2 separate regions of the Homo sapiens genome follow, and region 2 is linked to region 1. The links come from fine-mapping of genetic effects on gene expression. A gene starts in region 1. The other region holds a variant in brackets. All regions are shown on one strand. Distances are between the middles of the regions.

What was found. PIP is the estimated chance that this variant, and not a neighbour inherited with it, causes the effect.
Region 2: its variant is the best candidate, but not a certain one, in a credible set for the expression of CASP10 in whole blood (TOPMed, PIP 0.69).

What each region holds. Positions count from the first base shown.
Region 1 is chr2:201,180,890-201,186,270 of GRCh38, reverse strand. CASP10 (caspase 10) reads right to left here and starts at 3,130. Exons shown (of 10, transcript NM_032977.4): 1 at 2,963-3,130; 2 at 147-500. The coding sequence starts at 493.
Region 2 is chr2:201,209,472-201,214,852 of GRCh38, reverse strand. CASP10 (caspase 10) reads right to left here. Exons shown (of 10, transcript NM_032977.4): 9 at 5,291-5,381. It also overlaps the pseudogene MTND5P25, the pseudogene MTND4P23 and the pseudogene MTND4LP13. Among named protein-coding and RNA genes, the nearest start is that of CASP10, 29 kb to the right of the region's middle. The variant C/T (reference allele first, on the strand shown) is at 2,554.

The sequences.
Region 1 (5,381 bases):
GAGAAGGAGGTTTAGAATCTCCTGGTTTATCATCCAAGGAGGTAGATAACCAAAAGATCTTAACTGCAGCTTCCTTTCAAAGCCCAATGGCCAGAATGAACACTAGATGGGAGATCCTCCCATCTCCACCACAGACCCGTCCTCACCTAAACAGAGAAACCCTTTGTCGGGTGGGCAGCAGTCGCTCCACTTCCTCTTTGGTACAGTTGAGGTGCTGCAGCAGCTTCTTCTGCCGTATGATATAGAGGAGTTCTGCCAGGAAGAAAGGGTCTTCCTCACTCAGCAGATCCTCTGCCAAGAGATGTTCAAAAACATCTGAGGCTGAGCTGGACTTCTCCAGCTTCTTGTTGGGGACCAATCCTATGCAGAGAAACTTGAGGTTCTCCACATCTTGGACCCCCAGGTTTGAATCAATAATCAGAAGCTTCTCACGAAAGCTCACTTTACAGTTTTTATCTGAACTGGAATACCAATGTTGACCTTGAGATTTCATGGCCAGCCTGAAAGGGACAGAGAGGTGGGGCAGGGAGTTAGAGAGTGAGGACATATGGCCCCCTGACTTCCCAGGCCCTCCCCTCACCACAACCTTCTCCGTTCTGGGCATTAGACTTTCCTAGAAGTGCTGAAAAATAAAAATTACGGCGAGGCTACTTCAAAAAGCAACAGCCCAGAAAACTTTTCCCCAACACTTGCAAGTTACTTTTTAGGAAACTTGGAGGGTGCTTATATTGGAATTCAATTCACCTTGATTTCTCCCAAATCAAAATGTTCCCAGAGAGAGAAAGTTAAGATGGAGGGACACAGCACAATTTTTCTCAAGCCTGGTAGCCTGATTGGAGCCCTTACATTCATTTCCAGCACGTGGCAGAAATAGCACTTGGCTCTATGCTTTAAGTTTTAGACACAAAGCAATCTGGGGGAGGCAGGGTTATCCTTATGATCTATCAACCCAAAGACAGCAAGGTACCGTGAGGTATGTGTGTTACATCTTAACTTCAGACTGCTACCTGTAAGAGGGCAGGCCTTTATCTTACAGAAAGGGAAGGCATAATCCTAGACCTCAAGCCTGAGCAACATGGCGAGACCTGGTCTCTACTAAAAATACAAAAAATTATCAGGGCATGGTGGCACATGCCTGTGGTCCCAACTACTCAGGAGGCCGAGGATGGAAGGATCATTTGAGCCTGGGGAGCACAGGTTGCAGTGAGCCATGATCATGCCACTGCACTTCACCCTGGGTGACAGAGTGAGACCCTGTTTCAAAAAGAAAAATAAATAAATAAAATATCCTAGACCTCAGGAGGAAAGGGTGGTTTTAGACAAGAGTTGCTCAAATCAGTGTAGGAAGTTAAAAATTACATGAGTCGGCTGCTCTGTCTATGGAGTAGCCATTCTTTTGTTTCTTTACTTCTCTAATAAACTTGTTTTCACTAAAAAAAAACAAATTACATGAGTCAATGTTTCCATCTGATCAGTTTATAAACTATGCTATTCTCTATACTAAATTTCATCATAATCAGAGGAGCAATGCAGTGATAAAATTTTCATTGTAATACTATTTATTCTATAAGCACTTGAGGTATGTAGTCAATATGCAGAACTTGGCTATTTTTAGAAACAAGAAAATACTTTATAAAGGAAGGAACAGGTGGGGTGTCATGGCTTACGCCTATAATCCCAGCACTTTGGGAGGCCAAGGCGGGTGGATCACTTGAGGCCAGGAGTTCAAGACCAGACTGGGCAACGTGGTAAAACCCCATCTCTACAAAAAATACAAAAATTAGCCAGGCATGGTGGTGCACGCCTGTGGTCCCAACTACTCAGAGGGCTGAAGCAGAAGGATCATTTGAGCCCCGGGGATGGAGGTTCCAGTGAGCCATGATTGTGCCACTGCACTCCACCCTGGGTGACAGAGCAAGACCCTGCCTCAAAAACAAAACAAAACAACAACAAAAAAACCTCCTAGACCTCAGAAGGAAAGGGTGATTTTAGACAAGAGTTGCTCAAATCAGCGAAGGAAGATAAAAATTACATGAGTCAATGTTTCCATCTGACTAGTCTATAAACTATGGTATTCTACATACTAAATTTCATTATAATCAGAGAAGCACTTCAGGAGACTGAGGCAGGTGGATCACTGTGAGGCCAGGAATTCGGGACAAGCCTGGGCAACACGGTGAAACCCCGTCTCTACAAAAAATACAAAAATTAGCTGGGCTTGGTGGTGTATGCCTGTGGTCCCAGCTTCATAGGAAGCTGAGATGGGAGGATTGCTTGAACCTGGGAGGCGGAAGTTGCAGTAAGCCAAGATTGTGCCACTGCACTCCAGCTTGAGTGCTGGAGGGTGAAAGAGGGAGACTCCGTCTCAAATAAATAAATAGATAAATAAATAAATAAATAAATAAATAAATAAAGGAAGGAAGACACAGCAAAAATCAAAACCTCCATAACAAACAGTGGTTATATCGAGGTGACATAACTATAGATAATACAAATTTCCTTCTGGGCTTCCAATTGAATTTCTCAAATTTTATGCATATGTGAGCATACACATTACTTTTGGTGTTAAAAGAAACAAAAAAATGTCATTTTTAATGTGATAATCCAGGGGATCTTCCCTGCTACTAGCCCTGAGGTCAAATGAGTGGTTTATTGGAGACACCTTTCTATTCTACCGCATCTAGCATTTGCCTTGTGGTTTCTTGACAATTCTGATCTCTAGTTTTAGTGAGTCTACCAAACTTTGTCTCTGTGAGCTAACATATTTCTGCCCCGGTAAAAGGCTATGTTGGAGGCTTCCGGATTTTTTAACTTTTGTTTTCCCAGGCATGACAAAGAAATCTAAGAAAAAATAGTGCCATTGCTGACAAGTTTTTGCAAGTTTCTACAACACGAAGCCATGAAGCAAAGGAAAAGATTCAAGCATGAGACTCTGGAGTAAGAAGGGTTGTTAATTACATACCTTCAGATCAAGCTCCACCAATCTTCTGGAAGTAAACGGTTCTCAGGGAAATTGCCTGAAAACAAAGTTTTAAAGAAAGTAGAATCCTCTGTGTGCTCCAAGGTCCAAAGAAGCTCCCATTTGCTTGGGAAGAGACTTCAAGACTTGCTGGTTGTTTAAGTGAAAACTGAATCTTCAGGACTGGGTAGCCTGATACTAGTTTCCTGCTGATGTCATCACTGCTTATCTGCCTTTTTCCCTCCCCTTTTCCAGGGTTAAGATAACTTTGACAAACAGCGTCTCCTAAAGGCTAATTTACAACTTTCTCACTGTAGAGCTTGGGGTTTCCCCAGGTAAAGCAAAAGCTTCCTAGAAACGAACCCGTGGAAGCCACAAAGTGCTTCAGGCTTTCCTTTGGATCTCCATTTCCTTGGTAAGTCAAAAAGGGAAGCATCTGTTTTCCTAACCAACTCCTTCCCCAAACACACTTCACTTTTCAAATAAAGCCAAAAAGCTCATGAAATAGTTGTCGGCCATGTTAACCCTTTCTTATGTCCACATGCAAATAAACAATGGAGCGATCTCCACTTACCGCAACCTCTGCCTCCTGTGTTCAAGTGATTCTCCTGCCTCAACCTCCCGAGTAGCTGGGATTACAAGCATGCGCCACCACGCCCGGCTAATTTTTTGTATTTTTAGTAGAGACGAGGTTTCACCATGTTGGCCAGGCTGGTCTCGAACTCCTGAGCTTGTGATCCACCCTCCTTGGCCTCCCAAAGTGCTGGGATTACAGGCATGGAGCCACCGTGCCCGGCCCACAAATAAAATTTTTAAAAGATAAAAGAAAAGTGGGGATTCACTTTCAGTCTTTGTGGGAGAAATTAAGAAATAAAAAGAAAAAGAAAGGAAAAAAAAAAGAAAAGTGGGGATGGTGAATTACAAGCCCATTTGGAGGTACCTGCAAGAGACTCAACAAATTTGTGGTAGGCAAAACTGACAGTATGTGTTCTCACAGCACATTCAAACCAGCAGGAAAGTGAGACTTTGAAGACATTATTTCTAATCATAAAAACAATACTGCACACTAATATTGCAACTACCATGTGCCAGGGCATTTACAAATATTTACTCATTTCACCATCCCAACAACACTGTAAGATAAATACTATTACTATGACTGCTGCTTTAACATGTGAAAACTAAGGCACAGAAAGGTTAATTAATTTGCCCAAGGTCACACAGTGAGCGGCTGGAAGAGCCAAGATTTAAACCAGCAAGTTTGGATCAAAGTCACTACACTATAATTAAGCTAACTCAAATGTGCAGCACTCTGGAAAGAGGTACAGAGTCTTAGAAAGATGTTTTATCTATGGGGAAAAAAAGCAAGATTTATGATGCTTTGATTAGCAAATGTATTAAAATGTCCTTTCCATGTCCTAGGCATCATTCAGAGAACTTCTGTGCTTAAGAAAGACAAGTCCTGGGGCCAGGTGCAGTGGCTCCCGCCTGTAATCCCAGCACTTTGGGAGGCTGAGGCAGGCGGATCACGAGACCAGCTTGGCCAAGATGGTGAAACGCTGTCTCTACTACAAATACAAAAAATTAGCTGGGCGTGGTGGCACACACCTGTAATCCTAGCTGCTCGGGAGGTTGAGGCAGGATAATCGCTTGAAGGCAGGAGGTGGAGGTTGCGGTGAGCGGATATCACGCCATCACACTCCAGCCTGGGCTACAGAGCAAGACTCCTTCTCAAAAAAAAAAAGAAAAGAAAAAGACAAGTCCTGGCCAGGCACAGTGGCTCACACCTGTAATCCCAGCACTTTGGGAGGCTGAGGTGGGCAGATTGCTTGAGGTCAGGAGTTCAAGACCAGCCTGGCCATCATGGTGAAACCACATCTCAACTAAAAACATAAAATTCGCCAGGCTTGGTGGCACATGCCTGTAATCCCAGCTACTAGGAGGCTGAGGCTGGAGAATCGCTTGAACCCGGGAGGCAGAGGTTGCAGTGAGCCAAAATCGTGCCATTGCACTCCAGCCTGGGCGACAGAGAAAGACTCTCTCAAAAAAAAAAAAAAAAAAAACCTTCTTGGGAAAGGGGGGCCGGAGCACAGCAGGCTGGGTTACTCACTACCCCAGTTCCAGGGAAGGTGGGGCCCTGACCCTAGAATGCTGCAGCAGAGTGAGGAGGGGGCCCCAACTGACCATAAAGAGTGTAGGGACCACCTTCTTTGCCTGTTCTGTTGGGACCAGGCTAGTCATTATTTGTCCCAGCCTGGGGCTCCCCCTGTGGTTTCCAATTTGCAGTTACTTTAACTTAAAATATAAATATTATTTTCTGGAAAATAACTTAAAAAGGAAGAAAGACAAGCCGTAAGTCTTGGTCTTCTATTTAGTTGTTTTATTATAAATATTAAATTTATTGGGCCATTTAGGGAGGCAA
Region 2 (5,381 bases), 29 kb before region 1:
AGAAGGAATAATATTATCATTATTCATAGTAAATACCCTTATAGCTTTAAATATACACTTCACCCTAGCAAATGTAATACCCATTACTCTACCAGTATTTGCTGCCTGCAAAGCCAGGGTAGGCCTTGCTTTGCTACTTTCAATTTCCAACATATATGGCTTAGACTACATACATAACCTAAATTTACTTCAATGCTAAAAATAACTATTCCTACAATTATACTACTACCAATAACATGACTCTCTAAAAATTATACAATTTGAATCAATATGGCTACCCACAGCCTAATCACCAGCTTCATTGCCCTATTATTCTTTAACTAATTCAACGACAATCTATTCAACTTCTCATTAACTTTCTCCTCTGATCCGCTAACATCACCCCTTCTAATCTTAACAGCCTGACTACTACCTCTTATAACTATAGCAAGCCAGTACCACCTCTCCAGTGAATCACCCCTATGGAAAAAACCCTGTATTTCCATATTAATTTCCCTACAAATTTTTCTAATCATAGCATTTACAGCCACAGAACTAATTATATTTTATATTCTCTTTGAAGCTACACTTATCCCTATCTTAATTATTATCACCCGATGGGGTAACCAACCAGAACGCCTCAATGCAGGTACATATCTCTTATTTTACACACTAGTGGGATCCCTCCCCCTACTTATTACACTTATTTATGCCCAAAATATCCTAGGCTCACTGAGCATGATAATAATAACATTTAATATCAAGAACTACCAATCTCCTGATCCAACAATCTCATGTGATTGGCATGTATAATGGCCTTCATAGTAAAAATACCCCTATACTGACTTCACCTATGACTTCCCAAAGCCCATGTATAAGCACCTAAGGCTGGCTCAATAGTACTTGCAGCAGTGCTCCTAAAATTGGGCGGCTACACAAAATGCGACTTACCCTCATCCTCAGCCCTCTGACAGAACATATAGCCTATCCTTTCCTGATATTATCCTTATGAGGCATATTATGACAAGCTCCATCTGTCTACGACAAACTGATCTAAAGTCACTTATTGCACATTCCTCCGTAAGCCACATGGTACTTGTTACTGTGGCTATCCTCATTCAAACCCCCTGAAGTTTTACCAGTGCAATTATCCTCATAATTCCCCATGGACTTACTTCGTCCCTACTATTCTGCCTAGCAAATTCAAACTACAAGTGAATCCACAGCTGAATCATATTACTCTCTCGAGGACGTCAAACATTACTTCCACTAGTAACCTTTTGATGACTTACAGCAAATCTCACCAACCTTGCCCTACCCCCCACTATTAATCTAGTAGGAGAACTCCTTGTAACAACGGCTTCATTCTCCTGATCAAACACTACCATCATGCTTATAGGACTTAATATATTAATCACAGCCCTTTATTCCCTCTATATACTTGTCACAACACAACAAGGAACACTAACATACTATATTAACAGCATTAAACCTTCCTTTACACGAGAAAACATACTAATACTCATACACCTTTCACCAATTCTCTTACTATCTCTAAATCCTAAAATTATTATAGGACTTATACCTTGTAAATATAGTTTAATCAAAATGTTAGATTGTGGTCTAATAATAGAAGTCCGCAACTTCTTATTTACCGATAAAGTTTGCAAGAACTGCTAACTCATGCCTCCATGCCTAACAACATAGTTTTCTCAACTTTTAGAGGATGAGAGTTATCCATTGGTCTTAGGAACCAAAAATATTGGTGCAACTCCAAATAAAAGTAATAATCATGTATTTTTCCATTACTATAATAACCTTAATCTCCTTAACCTTACCAATTATTATTACCTTTATCAACCCTCACAAAAAGAACTCATATCCATACTATGTAAAAATAGCTGTCGCATGCACTTTCACCATTAGCCTCATTCCCACAACATTTATGTGTACAGACCAAGAAACCATCATCTCAAACTGATATTGAATAACAATCCAAACCCTAAAACTCTCATTAAGCTTCAAACTAGACTAATTCTCCATAATGTTTATTCTAGTAGCACTATTTATCACTTGATCTATTATAGAATTCTCAATATGATATATGAAGGCAGATCTGAACATTAATCAGTTTTTCAAATACCTACTTATTTTCCTCACCACAATATTAATTCTAGTTACTGCCAACAACATTTTCCAACTCTTTATCAGATGAGAGGGTGTAGGAATTATATCTTTTCTACTAATTGGCTGATGACATGGCCAAGCAGATGCTAACACAGCAGCCCTCCAAGCAATTCTATACAATCGCATTGGTGACATTGGCTTTATTTTAGCTATAGCATGATTCCTCTCATCATCCAATACATGAGAGCCTCAACAAATACTTATCCTTAACCCTACCCCCAACCTTCTTCCATTAATTGGTTTTCTCTTAGCAGCAGCAGGAAAATCAGCCCAACTTGGCCTCCACCCCTGACTTCCTTCCGCCTTGGAAGGCCCAACCCCAGTCTCAGCCCTACTTCACTCTAGCACTATAGTTGTGGTGGGAGTTTTCCTACTTACCCGCTTCCA[C/T]CCCTCAACATCACTAATCATCACGGAAATGCAAATCAAAACCACAGTGACAGCTGGGCGCCGTGGCTCACGCCTGTAATACCAGCACTTTGGGAGGCTGAGGTGGGTGGATCACTTGAGATCAGGAGTTCCAGACCAGCCTGGCCAACGTGGTAAAACCCTGTCTCTACTAAAAATACAAAAATTAGCCAGGCGTGGTGGCACATGCCTGTGATCCCAGCTACTCGGGAGACTGAGGCAGAAGAATTGCTTGAACCTAGGAGGCAGAGGCTGCAGTGAGCTGAGATTGCGCCACTGCACTCCAGCCTGACAGAGCAAGATGTTGTCTAAAAAAAAATAAAAATAAAAATAAAAAACCCACAGTGAGATGCTACTTCACTCAAGTTAGAATGGCTATTATCGAGGAAACAAAAGAAAACACATATTGGCAAAGATCTGGAGAAAAGGGAACACTTACACACTGTTGGTGGTATTGAAAATTAGTACAGCCATTATGGAAAATAGTATGCCAGTTCCTCATAAAATGAAAAATAAAAATACTATATGATCCAGCAATCCCCATACTAAGTATATAAACAAAGAAAATGCAATCAATATGTCAGAGAGATATCTGCACTCCCAGTTTACTGCAGCATTATTTACAATAGCCAAGATATGGAATCAACCTAAGGGTCCAAAAATGGATATATGGATAAAGAAAATGTGATATTTATACGTGACAGAATACCATTCAGCCATAAAAAAAGAAAATCCTGACATGTCTGACAACATGAATGAGCCCAGAGTGAAATAAGCAAGACACAGAAAAAATCTGCTTGTTCTCACTCATGTGGAATCTTTGTTTAAAAAGTTGATGTCATAGAAGCAGTGATTAGAACAGCAATTACAAAGATGAGAGAGAGAAGGAGGGAAGGGAAGATGAGAGGTTAGTCAATGGGTACAAAGTTACAATTAGATAGGAGAAATAACCTCTGGTGTTCTGCTGCACAGTGGGGTGACTATGGTTAACAGTAAGGCATTCTGAGCTGGGCACTGTGGTTTGAGCATATAATCCTAGCTACTTACAAGGCTAAGGCAGGAAGATTGCTTGAGCCTAGGAGTTCAAGGCCAGCCTCGGCAACATGGTGAGATCCCATATTTAAATCAATCGATCAATCAGTAAGGTGTTGTATATTACAAAATAGCTACAAGAGAGGCTTTTAGAGGTTCTCACCACAAAGAAATGATAAATGCATGAGGTGATGGATACACTAACTACCCTGATTTGATCATTATACAACACATATATGTATTGAAACATCAAATTATAACCCTGAAATATGTAGTTATGAAGTATCAATTAAAAATAACAGAAATTTCTGGAGTACCAAAAAAAACCACACATTGCTTAATCATGCATGTATACTGTCTCCTTTTAATATTGTTGAATTTTTAAAATAATAATAATTTAAATATTCACTTATATTTTTATTATCTGTCCTTCCTTCACTGGACTTTTAGCTCCCTGGAGAGCAGATTTTGTCTCTCTTGTACACAGTTGCACCCCCTGTCCCCAGTTCGGTACCCAGTACAGTAAGCACATAGTACGCTCTCAATAAATATTGCCTTGTTCCTGAAGCCATAGACATTAGCCTCTGATGTCTGTGATGAGAATGGAGGGGCTGGTAAAGAAGAGAGAAAAGCAAAGTTGACTCAAGGTTCCAATCCTGAATTCCCAGAAGAGCACTATGGCCATTCCTTCAAATGGAAATTCAGGAGTAGGAGCTCCTGGAGAGAGCTGGGAAGATGAGCTCAGAAACATGCATGCTGAATGTGAGGTCCAAGGGCTAAACAGAGGTAGGATATCTAGCGGGATGTTAATGAGACAGGCTCAAGCAAGTCATTCATTGGCCCAGCAAATGTTTAACAAGCTCACAATATATCAGGTCAGGGGCTGAGGATATAAAGTTGAATGAAACAGGGTCTCTGCCCCCAGGAATTCAGAGATGAGTGGGCCAGAGATGGCAACTTTGGAGACGTTTTCATGGAGGAGCCCATGGCCTCTAGGTATGGCTAAAGGTGCCAAGAGGACAGCATGTGGCAGAGACAGAAGGGAAGCTGTCAGAGCAGTGGCAAATAGAAGTCCAAAGATAGCACATAGGTGCTCAGGACGTAAGAGTGAGTGATAAATAAACGAACAAATAAAAGGCCCCCATGCTTTTGTTCATGCTATTCCCTCTGCCCAGCACATCTTTCACCTGATTCTTTACCTAACATCTATTTGTCATTTCTAGAAGCCTCCTCTGATCCTTCAAATCTGGGCAAGGTACTCATTCTGCATGTTCCCATAACACCTATACTTCACAATGTGCACTTACCAGCTGGGGATGCCCTTCCCCGTCTATTTGTTTGTCTATCCCTCTAGCTTGTAAGCAACCTGAGGGCAAGGACTCTGTCTTTTTTTAACTCTGTATCTTCCTTTCCAGGTCCAGGCTGGTACTCAATACAAGGTTGCTGGATGGATGGATGGATGGACAGATGGATGGATGGATAGATGAATGGGTGGATAGATGGATGGATAGATGAATGGGTGGATAGATGGATAAATAGATAAACAGGAGGGTAGGCAGATGGTTGAACAGGTACATGGATAGAACAACGTAGAACTCTCACCCTTACCAAAGGTGTTGAATGAGAGTAAAATAAAAAATAAATAAAACTAATTAATTACAAATGGAAGAAAAAAAAGAGCTCTCACCTTGGGACCAATTTCTTCAGATGATTACACAGAGACTGAATATACCAGCTGCCTTCCTCCACATGCCGAAAGGATACATAGCCTGGGACAG